Linked DNA regions of Homo sapiens. The protein of the gene in region 1 interacts with the protein of each later gene in a biochemical or structural test. Each region holds a gene or a part of one and is shown on either strand. Other genes may lie near its edges. The genes, in order: ACVR1 and BMP7.

Region 1 (4,675 bases):
CAAACTCACAGAGACACAGAGTAGAATAATGGTTGCCAGGGACCAAGGAGGGAGGAATGGGGAGTTACTGTTTGACAGATATAGTTTCAGTTTCACGTGAGTTCTGTGGATAGATGATGGTGATAGTAGCACAAGGTGAATGCACTTAACATACACTTAAAAATTAGTAAGTTTTATGTTATCTGTAACACAAATTAAAATTTTGATTTGTAATTTAAAAAAATGTCATTCTAATATATACCCTCCAAGTAAATACATCCTAATGAAGTTATTAACTTACCTCTGGAAGACATTCCGGCATGTTCACACCTCTTCTCTTATTGGGCTACTGTTAACTCTACCTTTTAATCTTGTGTACAAGCAGTGAAAAAACCGAGAACGGACTCTCCCAAGCAGCAAGGGCGGATGCATAAGACCACTTTACACTCACGTGGAACCTTTCACTCAACAAAATGCTTTAACATCCTCCTTCCCGTTTACACTCACAACACCCCCCTGTGAGAAAGGCAGGTCAGAGAGATTTGTTACCCTCACCTTACAGCTGGAGAAACTGACTGAAAAAAAAACACAAAAAAACAAAAAAATCACAGCCAAAGGAAGAAACAAATTTTCTTATACCAAATTCAAGCTGTAAGACATCCTTATGATGTCTTACATAAGTTCATGAGTAGATTTAAAAAGCAAATTCAATTTACAAATTAGTTTTGTGCTTCTATTGCTCCCATAAGAAAATGCATAATGTTACACAGATCTTTTTTATATTTTGAAAAACAATTTCACTGTTTGACTTGAAAACAGTTTATTTAATTTATACAAATAACTACTAAATACAAAAAGTAGATTAAAACAAAATAGTTATTTTTTTCTGGCAGAGTTTAAATGCACGTAATGGATAATTCTGAAGAAAATGCATTTTCCCCGTAGCGTTCAGGACTAAAATTCTACTGAAATCTTTGCTTCTAAATCAGTAATATATTCGGTGGTGTCACGTGGGTAATGGCTAAATACGTTCTGCATATGAACTGAAAAAAAGTTACAGTCTACACACATACAAATGTGAAGCACTTAAAATGTGATTTTAACTGATAATAAAAGAAAATGTCCATTTTAGAGTATAGTGTTAAAAACATTTCTGTAATAAAATCATAAGACCACATAAAAATAAGCTTTAACATATGCACAAAGCAGTTTTGTAAAAACTACTAAGTGCACAAGTAATAAATAATTTGCAAAGTTGTGTATAAACAATTCCTAATGTTCGGCATCATTGTAAACATCAGCACATGTGTAAAATGCAGCAAAGTCTGACATTACATTTTGTTTTGCCAAATTGAATTCCTATTATCCAAAGACAGACCAGTGGAGTACGCAGCCAACATTTTGGCAAGTTGGGTCTTTAAAATTAAGAGTAACAGTGCAAGTAAGGAATGCAAAGAATTCCTAGTGCAATAAAGAAGAGAAGCACAGGCAATATTGCTGATTAAAAATTCACCACCTCCTTGAGTTTCCCGTGGGGAGTGTCTAGGAGACTTGTGAAAGCTATGCAAAGCCACTGACTTAATGCCCAGATCTCTTTTAGGATTTCTCTGTGTTCCTCCAGTCCCTACCTTTGCAACAGTGTCTGTCCAACATTAGTCTCTGCAGTGTGAACAGTTCGTGAAATGCCCAGTTCACAGTCATCGAGCGAGGTTAGGGTGGTTTTGATGTCTCCCCAACACATGGCTGGGTACGACGTCTGCCTTGTCAAAGCAGCCATTTGGGGAGGGAGACAGATGGATTCCATTCTGACAACCAGTCAGGCCAGCATTAGGTCCCAGCTGGACAATGACAACAACGTCAAATCTTCCTTCTTGACACTATGAAAATGTCAACAGTCAGTTTTCAATTTGTCGAGGGAATTATCAATTTTGGTCAAAGTCTTTTTGATACGCAGTGCTGTGAGTCTTGCGGATGGATTTTGATACCAGCATTCTTTCATTAGCTTGGCCAGAGAGGTTAATGTCTGAGGAGAGAAAGAACAAACACCACAATGACAAACTGGCTTTTTAATGGCCCTGGAAGCTGGGCTGATATCATGTCTACTATTCTGAAGAACTCGCAGGTCTTGTGAAATTAGAGTTATGTTACTGTCATCTTCTTCAAGCAAATATTCAACCTTTAACCACTGATAAAGAGGCCATTCTTAGAATTTCATGAACTCTGTCCTTTGGACTCTTAATGCTACCAATTTATTAGGTAAACGACATAGGCCAGATTGGACCCCTTAATGATTTTATGGGTGCCAAAAGCAGCAATACTAACCTAGAGATAATCCTGAAATTTCCAAATAGGGTCATTTCTCATTGTTTTATACCTGCTACTACTTATGAGTAGCAATACAGGATCTTCAGCATCCAGCAGCTTGTGTTTGGGATTTCAGATATACAGAGATGGAAAGGAGGTTAAAAGCTTCACTTAAAGTCTCTTGGTTTATACATGCAGTCTTAGGGCTAATAGCAGTAGTCATGAGTCTCCCGATTCCTGAAGCTGCATATTCACAGAAATTCTTACAAATATTGTCATTCACTAGCAACCCCTATGAGATATGGCTTCTTCAAGAATGGAGTATTTTTCTGAACTTACTCTTCTAGATCTAAACCCTTCTATATAAAATAGGAAGAGAAAACAACAGATCCACGGGACAGATCACTCAGATGCAATACCAGTTGAAACTCAAAGGGAAACAAATAGCAAACAATGGAAAAGAGCTCTAAAACTGAGAAACTGGCATTCTTACCGGGTCTGAGAACCATCTGTTGGGTATGTTTGGCCTTTGTTGATCCACACAGACTACCTTCCTCATATCTTCAAAACTTGGGTCATTGGGAACCACATCGTAGAACGGTGGCTTGTAATCCTCCACTATACCTGCACACAAGGACAAGAATTGTGTTCGGTTAGCAAGAGAGTACAGGTTGCCCCAAGGTTTCATTGATGGGTGTCACAGGTTATAATGTGACAGAAGAAAATACTAATCACCTTCCTCATACCTCAGGGCAGTCCTGGAAGCTAGAGGTAGGTCCTAAAACAGGTGGGAGAAAAAGGCAATAAATACACACCCTGCATGGTATTGGAAGAAGGATAATTGTTAGAAGGAAATACGTGAAAACTTCTCATGTAATCATAACTATTAGCAAAATTCTCCAACAGTGTATATTAACAGCTCTGTAACGCCCAACAGGGCACTGGAGACATAGAACAAAAATTCCTTTGGTGATAAAAACCACCCAAGCTACCTATGGAAAGTACCTGAATCTAGTGGTTTCAAACCATAAATAGAAATAAAAAGTTGTCCACAAACTAGAGCTAGGGAGTAATAAACCAAGACCATCATCAAAATACCCCTTTCTTTGTTAGAAAAGTATTTTGTTAAGAAAAACATTGCTATAAATTAATCTCTTCCATTAGGAGGGATGCAAATAATATCATAGGAAATACTCATTTCCTCATTCATTCATTCTACATGTACTGAGTACCCTCTAACTACAGGCACAGCTGTCTGACTGATGGCTCTATTATTTACTATCATATTGAAGGCACAAAATAAAATGTAAAGAGGATAGCCATGTGGGAAGGCAGAGGAAAAGAAGGATAAATAATGAACTCTTCCTCTGCCCAAAAGCAAATATGAACAGTAGCTAATACCAGCTTCTGCCCCTGCATGATTTCCAATGGCCTGGAAACTTTTTCTTTTCCAGCAGAATTATATCAACTCCTTAAACAGAAAAATTTTTAACTTCATCATTTGGAATTAGAAAATGGATTCTTCCCCTTCATAGAAATAAAACCAAGACATCTATTATTTCCTTTCCCTCAACAAAGGGTTCAAACAATGAGGTAATAACTTGGTTTACTGCTCTCTTTTCTTCCTCCAGGCGACTTTCTTCTATTCCTAAATACCTAAGAAGTTGTTGGAGGCGACAGAAGGAGTGTGAGGAAAGTTGTAATTCGGTTGTTCTAGTTCCTACAAGCCACCTGAAAAGCTTCAATTCCCTTTTCATTTATCACAGAAATTACTCAACAGTGGGAATCCATCCTTACAAATTCCATACAAATACAAACCATTTATGCAAAAGATTAGATATAAGGAGCATCTTTTCAAGAAATGCTACATATCTTTTTAAAACTTCACAAATTTGGCTAAATAAAGGTTTATATTTGAGATGGAAACAAGTCTAAATTATATTTTTTAAAAATCTAGGCTGGGTGTGGTCGTTCACGCCTGTAATCTCAGCACTTTGGGAGGTCGTGGTGGGTGGACCACTTGAGGTCAGTGTTCGAGACAAGCCTGGGCAACATGGCAAGACCCTGTCTCTACTAAAAATACAAAAATTAGCCGGGTGTGTTGGCGCGTGCCTGTAGTTCCAGCTAACTCAGGAGGCTGAGGCACAAGATTTGCTTGAACCCGGGAGGTGGATGTTGCAATGAGCCAAGATCAGACCACTGCACTCCAGCCTGGGTGACAGAGTGAGATTCTGTCTCAAAAAAAAAAAAAAACTAGTTAATTCCAAATAACTTACCCACATTGTGTAACTGCATTTGAAATGCATATCAGTCAGTGGATTAAAACCTTTCCTGGCAAATCATAAACATCATATTGGGTATAAACTGCTACTCTCAGAAATCTTGGAACACC
Region 2 (7,290 bases), on another chromosome or scaffold:
ACTTGTGTGGCTCCACGGCAGGGCTCCAGCCCAAAACCGGGGGGACGAGCGATTCAAAGGGGCAGGCACACAGGCGTACACACTCACACTCAAGGACTCTGGCCTAAGCCTAGGGTGGGGCCCAGGCCTCGGTATTTTTATTTTATTTTTTTCTTAACTTCCAGGCAGGTTTTAGAAGAGCTGCAAACAGGGCCACGAGCCATCCGCGGGAAGGAGGCAGGTTCCCAGCAATGAATTTCTGCCACGGGAAACAGTGAGAGCCCCGTCCTGGGGGCTGTGTAAATGGAGACTTGGTGGGGCTTTGATGAGGAGGCGGTGGGGAAAATCAGAGTGAATTCTAAGCCCGCGATGCCTAGTTCCTCTCCCCCTCATTACCCAGGTGCACCCGATGGAGCTCCAAGACACGGAAGTCTCTGCCGGGATGCAGTTTGCCTACACTTCCTGCCTGGATGATCTGCCACATCCTCTAAGGAGTCTCCGGCCTCTGAGCACCCCCTCGGCACCCACCCTGTTCCTCACCTTTCTTAGAGCAGCCAGAATGATCTTATCACCTGCACCCCACACCACAGCTTGAATCTCTGCAAAGACTTCTGAACATGCTTGGCATGAAGTTCAAACTCAAGACGTGACTCCCAAGAGAATGCCTGACCCGCCCACCCTCACTCCCCTCCCCTGCTTCAGCCCCCACAGCCTCCTCCCCACTCCCCAAAGGCGCCAGGAAACCCCACAGCACAGGCCTCTGCCCCTGCAGGTCCCACAGCCCAGAGCATCCTCTCCGGACCAGCCTGGCCTCGTGGGCACCCACTGGACCCAGAGCTCTCAGCTCGCTCGCCACGAAATGTTGTCTGCAGCCCTCGGGATGGGCTGCGTTCCCTAGGCACCACCCTGACTCTGGGTCTGTTACTATGTATGGATGTGAATGGCAACCCCCTCCTTCCTGTCCTAAATTAACACCCCCAAGGGCAGCCTTTGTGTGGGTGTTCGACATTGAATCCTAGCCTTCAAGAGTCCAGCATAAAAGAGGCTTCGAATACAAATGAAGGAATTTGGTTGGTTTTTGACTTGGGAGATCAAAGACCCCTTTGAGAAACCTGGAAAAATGGATCCACTGTCAGAAAAGAAAATATACGGAATCCCTACACACTCTGGGCCACACAGACCCACTGAGGTCCATCCGGGGGCCCCAGGACACCCGCCAGGGGTCAGGAAGCCTTGTCTTAAAAAGGCCACCAACCCCACTGACCTGCCTTCTCCCTTGAAAAGTAAAATGAACATAAATTTCAAGCTAGGCTAGGTAAGGAGGAAGAAGCTATTGGCACTAGAGGGTTAATTTGGGGGTGGGGCTGCTGCTATCCCCTCGCCAGGACCTTTCTCAATAGCCCCTTGCTCCCCTTGGGTGCTTCCTGGGACCAACCGCAGGCCCCGGAGGTGATAAGCAGCTAATAGCTTCCCACATGGTGGCAGGGCAGGTTTGCACCTCAGACCTTTTTCTGCCTTGTGATCAACCTGGAGCCAAGAAGGCTGCAACTCCTGAGCCGGCCCCCAGATGGTTGTGTCCCAGCTCCTTAGCAGGATGAGGGAAGCACTCTGAGGAGGCTGGGGGCAGTAGCTCATGCCTGTAATCTCAGTACTTTGGGAGGCCAAAGTGGAAGGATAGCTTGAGCCCAAGAGCTCGACACCAGCCTAGGCAATATAGGGAGGCCCTGTCTCTACAAAAAATAGCCAGGTGTGGTGGCATCCATCTATAGTCCCAGCTACCTGGGAGGCTCAGGCAGGAGGATTGCTTGAGCCCAGGAGGTCAAGGCTACAGTAAGCCATGCTCACACCACTGCACGCCAGCCTGGGCAATGGCGTGAGACCCTGTCTCTAAAAAAAAAAAAAAAGAAAAGAAAAAAGAAAAAGAAAATCACTTTGCCAACAAAGATGTATTCTTTCCTATCGCTGCTTTAACAAATTAACCAAGCAAATTATCAAAACAATACAAGCGGATTATAGCTCTGTGGCTCTGAAGTCCAACACCAGTCTTAGCAGGTAAATGCAACTGGGGGCTCTAGGGGAGGATCCCTTCCTTGCCTTGTGCAGCTTCTCCAGGCCACCCACATCCCAGGGCTGGTGGCCCCACTCATCTCCACCCCTCTGTGCTCTGTGCTTACATGGCTCCAACCACAGCTCAAAAAGGCTCTCTCCTATAAGGACCGATGGGACCACCCTGCTACACAGAGCCCGCGTATTGGAAGGCCAGCTGATTAGCACCTGTGATTCCAAGGGCAGTCGTAACTCCCCTTTGCCCTGGAGGGTGACACATTCACGGGTTCCAGAGATTAAGACACTGGCATCTTGGAGAGGCTATTGCCCTGCTCATTGCAAATGGCTTCCTGAAGAGCCAGAGAAACGGCACCCCCGGGCAGCAGCTCCCCTGGCCGGCGGGATGGGATTGGGGATGGGGAGCAAACTGGGCTCCTTGGATCTGGGAGGTGTCACCCCTCCAGTCCACTGGAAAATGGTTTGTTGTGAGGTTCATTATTCGAAGCTTTGGTTTTAGTCTGGGAGGAGTCCCGATGCATCTTCTGGCGGACTTGACACTGCATGTGCAGGGGGCATGAGCCAGGCAAGGGGTGTGGGAGGGCTGTCCACAGATGCCCACAGTGCCAGCAGGTCTGCTCCAGGCCAGCCCACCTCCAAAGCTCAAAACCAGAATGCACCTTCTGGGGATCCCAGCACCCCCAGGCCACCAGAGGCTGTCAATGTCGGTTTCCCAATCAGCCTATGGGGAAAGGGATTGCACCCCAGCCACAGCCCCAGTGCCCGGGACAAAGCCAGGCTCCTGTGGGGGCTCCACGAATGCCTGGTGAATTGTCAGAAAGCACCCAATGGGATTGCTGGGGACACCGAAGCTCATCCAGGCCAGGTAGATGGCCCCGGCAATGCCCAACAGGGAAGAGGGCCTGGGGCAAGGGACAACCCAGACCCCAGGGACCCAATCCCAGGGCTGCCAGTTACCTACACTGTGCCCTTAGACAAACGACTTACCCTCTTTGAGCCTCAGTTTTCCCCTCTGTGAAGTGGGAGGCCATCTACCTCAGAGCCTCAAGAACCACACAACATGATGGGCTAAAAGCTGTCTGCTTTAGAGGACCTGCAGAGCACGACCTCCTGGAAGTCTCCTTCGCACAATGCGTTAACTTTACTTATATTTACTGTTAATGTTTGATTTGCTTGCAATAAAAATATTATCTTTAATTTTTTTAAAACCTATCGTAAATAAACATTTCAAACAAACTGAAAAGTACCGCACATCATATATTCTTAAAACACCTACCACCTGGCCGGGTGCAGTGGCTCACGCCTGTAATCCCAGCACTTTGGGAGGCCAAGGCAGGTGGATCACTTGAGGTCAGGAGTTTGAGACCGGCCTGACCGACATGGTGAAACCCCGTCTCTACTAAAAATACAAAAATTAGCTGGACACAGTGGTGCACACCTGTAGTCCCAGCTACTCGGGAGGCTGAGGCTGAAGAATCACTTGAATCTGAGAGGCAGAAGTTGCAGTAAGCCGAGATCGCACCACTGCACTGCAGCCTGGGTGACAGAGTGAGACTTCATCTCAAAAAAAAAAAAATGTGTGTGTGTGTATATATATATAATATTTATCAAGTATTAAAGTTTGCCATGAATTTAAAATATTTTTCATTTATGAAATAAAGATACAGCAAACTCTTCTACCTCCCCATTTCTTCCTCCCCCTCCTTCCATGGGGTAAGCCCCCCCAGGGGTCTTCCCATCCACGTTTCAGGGTCTTTCCTTCATCTCTGTGTAGCTGCAAGTGCCGCCATTGTTCTGTTTATTTAAATATCTACATGCTTGGTGTTGTGTTATACGAATGTTTTGCTACTTGCATTTCTAAGCTAGTTTATTTTTACAGAATTAAGATGTCCTGTGTAGGGGTGGATTTGGGGGTTTTCTTCCTGCTATATTTGTTCCAGAGCCATCTGGTGAGCACCTGAATGGATTTTGAGTCAGTCTCCTGCCGGGTCCCGCCGGGGCCCTGCTGGGTTCCTGTGGTGGGTCTGTGATCCCTCCCACCTAAGCATACCTGCCACGTTGGCCATCCGCAGGGCTTCCTGGTTCTTGGGCGTCTTGGAGCGGTTCTGGCTGCGCTGTTTGCTCCCCGTGGACCGGATGCTGCGGAAGTGGACCTCCGTGGCCTTGAAGAAAGCCACCATGAAGGGCTGCTTGTTCTGGGGCCCGTGCCGCCCAATCAGGCCCGCCAACTTGGGGTTGATGCTCTGCCCTGGACAGGAAGCAGCCAAGTGCACAGAAGAGTAGTTACAGGAGGGCCACGAGCGGGACAGGGCTGCAGAGATGCTATGCCTCCCGGTTCATTCATGAACTCCTTATTCCTCCATCCAGTAAGTATTTATTGAGTACTCACTCTAGGCCAGGTACTGTTTAAGGAACTTGGAACACAACTGTGAAAGCAGCCAAGAAAACATCCTGTTCTCTGGGTTTCCATGCAAGTGGGGAAGGCAGGCAGGAAATATAAGGGGTGGGGAACCAGGCTGAGGGGTGCGGAAGGTGGCAAGCTAGCGAACCCCATAAGTGCCACTCACATTCCATTGGCCAAAGCAGGTCGTGGTATCTGCCTAATTTCAGGGAGTTGGGGGGCAATCTTGCTCCGTGCCAGGGAAGGTGGGAACAATTGCAAACAACCCTAATGACTATAGGGGCCATCTGAGCAGAGATCTGGGTAACAGTGAGTGAGGGGGCCCAATGGATGTTTGGGAAGAGTGCATTCCAGGCAGAGGGAACTGCAGAGGTGAATGCCCGGAGGCAGGAGCAAGGAGGGTGTGTTCAAGGGGCAGGGGCAAGTAGCAGGGACAACTGGGAGGGGCAGTAGGGGCACGAGTCAGGTCGGGTCCTATGGGCAACACGAGCACCTGCCTCAGCCCAGTGTCCTCTGTTGCTGATGTCCTCTAAAATTCACACCCACACAGAGCCTCAGGATGTGACCTCATTTGGAAGCAGGGTCTTTGCAGATGTGCTGTCGTCAGTTAAAATAAGCTCATCCTGGATTAGGATGAGCCTTAATCCAGTGACTAGTGTCCCCATAAGAAGGCCACATAAAGACACAGATGCAGACAGCCTGGGGAAGACAGAGGCCATGAAATGCCAAAGATTGCCAGGAGCCTCTGAAGCCAGAAGAGGCAAGGAGGGATTCCTCCCTAGAGCCTTTGTAAGAGGACAACCCTGTGGCACCTTGACTTTAGACTTCTCGCCTCCAGACTGTGAGACAATAAAGCCCTATTGTTTCAAGCCACCCAGTGAGTGGGACTTCGCATCCAGGGCCCTGGTCAGGACACCAAGGCGCTCTACAAGAAGCAAGAACCACTGGGGTGGGACTTTCAGTGGTGTTTATAAGGCCACTCAGGCTGCCCCTGGAGAGCCGATGGCAGGGGTCAACCTGGAAGCAGGGAGACCAGGTGGAGGCAACAGAATGGTCCACGTGGGAGGTGACGTGAGACTGGACCCAGGGCAGTGGGGAGGGAGGCTGGTGAGAAAAGGCCAGATCCTCAAGAGTTCATTTTTAAAATCTTTAGAATTTATTTTGGTTTTAACTTTTTGTTGTGAAATGATTATAGATTCACAGGAAGTTGAAAGACGATGTACAGGGAGGTCCCAAGTGCCCTTCATCCAGTTTCCCCCAAAGGTGATGTCTCGAATAACAAGAACACAGCCTCCAAACCAGGAAGGTGGCAGATTTAGGACTGAATTTGGGAAGGGATTATAAAAGGTGTGAGAAAAAGGGGAGTCTCATGAGACTGGCATGCTCTTGGCCCAAGCCCCTGGAAGAAGGGAGGGACTGTTTACCAAGGTAGGGAAACTGAGGCAATGGAGCATAAGCTGGGAAATAGAGGGTGGAAGACAAAATGCAGTTTCGTTTAGCAGATATTGTATGAAATCCCTACTTGACACCAAAAGGAAGGTGTCAGGTGGGCAGCAGAGGTCTGGCCTAGGCTTGATCAATTGATCAGTTGGAAGAGATGAGCTCTGGGCTAGTGAGGGAGGGAGTAGGGCCCAGGCAGGTTCAAAGCCCTGCCTCTGTCACTTAATGCACAGCTGGGGCTCAGGACACAGCTTTGCACACCCTAAGTGCTCAATAAATGCTAGCTCAGGGCAGAGCTTTGCATACCCTAAGTACTCAATAAATGCTAGCTCAGGGCAGAGCTTTGCATACCCTAAGTACTCAATAAATGCTAGCTCAGGGCAGAGCTTTGCATACCCTAAGTGCTCAATAAATGCTAGCTCAGGGCAGAGCTTTGCATACCCTAAGTGCTCAATAAATGCTAGCTCAGGGCAGAGCTTTGCATACCCTAAGTACTCAATAAATGCTAGCTCAGGACAGAGCTTTGCATACCCTAAGTGCTCAATAAATGCTAGCTCAGGGCAGTGGTCCAGACAGTAATGTAAGCTTGGGTGTCCCCAGTGTAGAGATGGCATTTAAAGCCAGAAGACTGGATGAGCTCGCCTGGGGAAAGTGTGTACAGCCTGACAAGCAATGTGAAGGTGGCCTCTGTGTTCCACTGAGAGGTCAGGGGAATGCAACGGAGACTGTGCAGGAGTACCCGGTAAGGAAGGATCTGGAAGACGCTTGGGCAGGAAGAATGGGGACACCAACAGGGTATGGGGTCCCGGAAAACAGGGGAGGAAAATAGAGGGAGCAAACTCCGTGTCCGTTGCTCTGCAGATGGACCTAAGAACACACTATCTATCCACTGGCTTTGACAATGATGAGGTCATTGGCAAATATATATGTAATACCATGTCTGGGGGTGATGAGTATTTCAAAGCCAAAAATAAAGCATCCAGTGGAAACAAAGCCTGTTTTACTCATGACAGCACAAGCTCAGAGAGGCTGAATAACCCGCCCAGGGATACCCGGCTTGGAAGCAACAAAGTAGAATCTGAACCCAGGTGAGGATGACGGGGAGTTGGGAGGCTGAGCCTCTGCAGATACGGTGCCCCCAAGTTAGATGGGAGGGGTCAGAGGCCAGCAAAAGCGATGGGCCTGTTCACATCTGGAATTAACTTCACCTGGAGTCCCCCAGACGGGCCAGAAGTCAAGAAACCCAGCCTCCCAGGACCAGATCAGCACCAGGGGGTTCACTTTGGTTTTTTAACAACTAGTGTTTAAAAGAACAAATTTTCCCCCACCCGCCGCTATTTTACCTTAACTCCCTTTAACGTTTGGCTTTCCTGCATTCTTGAGCGGGGTTTCCCGGAGTTCACCCA

What was found.
Region 2: the proteins of ACVR1 (region 1) and BMP7 form a complex in vitro, tested with the Homo sapiens proteins (2 studies listed by BioGRID).

What each region holds. Positions count from the first base shown.
Region 1 is NC_000002.12:157,735,664-157,740,338, forward strand, and holds the end of ACVR1 (activin receptor type-1 precursor), read right to left. Parts: intron 2,908-4,675; coding exon 2,777-2,907; intron 2,003-2,776; coding exon 1,868-2,002; 3' UTR 783-1,867; downstream 1-782. UniProt on the Homo sapiens protein: Bone morphogenetic protein (BMP) type I receptor that is involved in a wide variety of biological processes, including bone, heart, cartilage, nervous, and reproductive system development and regulation.
Region 2 is NC_000020.11:57,179,629-57,186,918, forward strand, and holds part of BMP7 (bone morphogenetic protein 7 preproprotein), read right to left. Parts: intron 4,292-7,290; coding exon 4,094-4,291; intron 1-4,093. UniProt on the Homo sapiens protein: Growth factor of the TGF-beta superfamily that plays important role in various biological processes, including embryogenesis, hematopoiesis, neurogenesis and skeletal morphogenesis.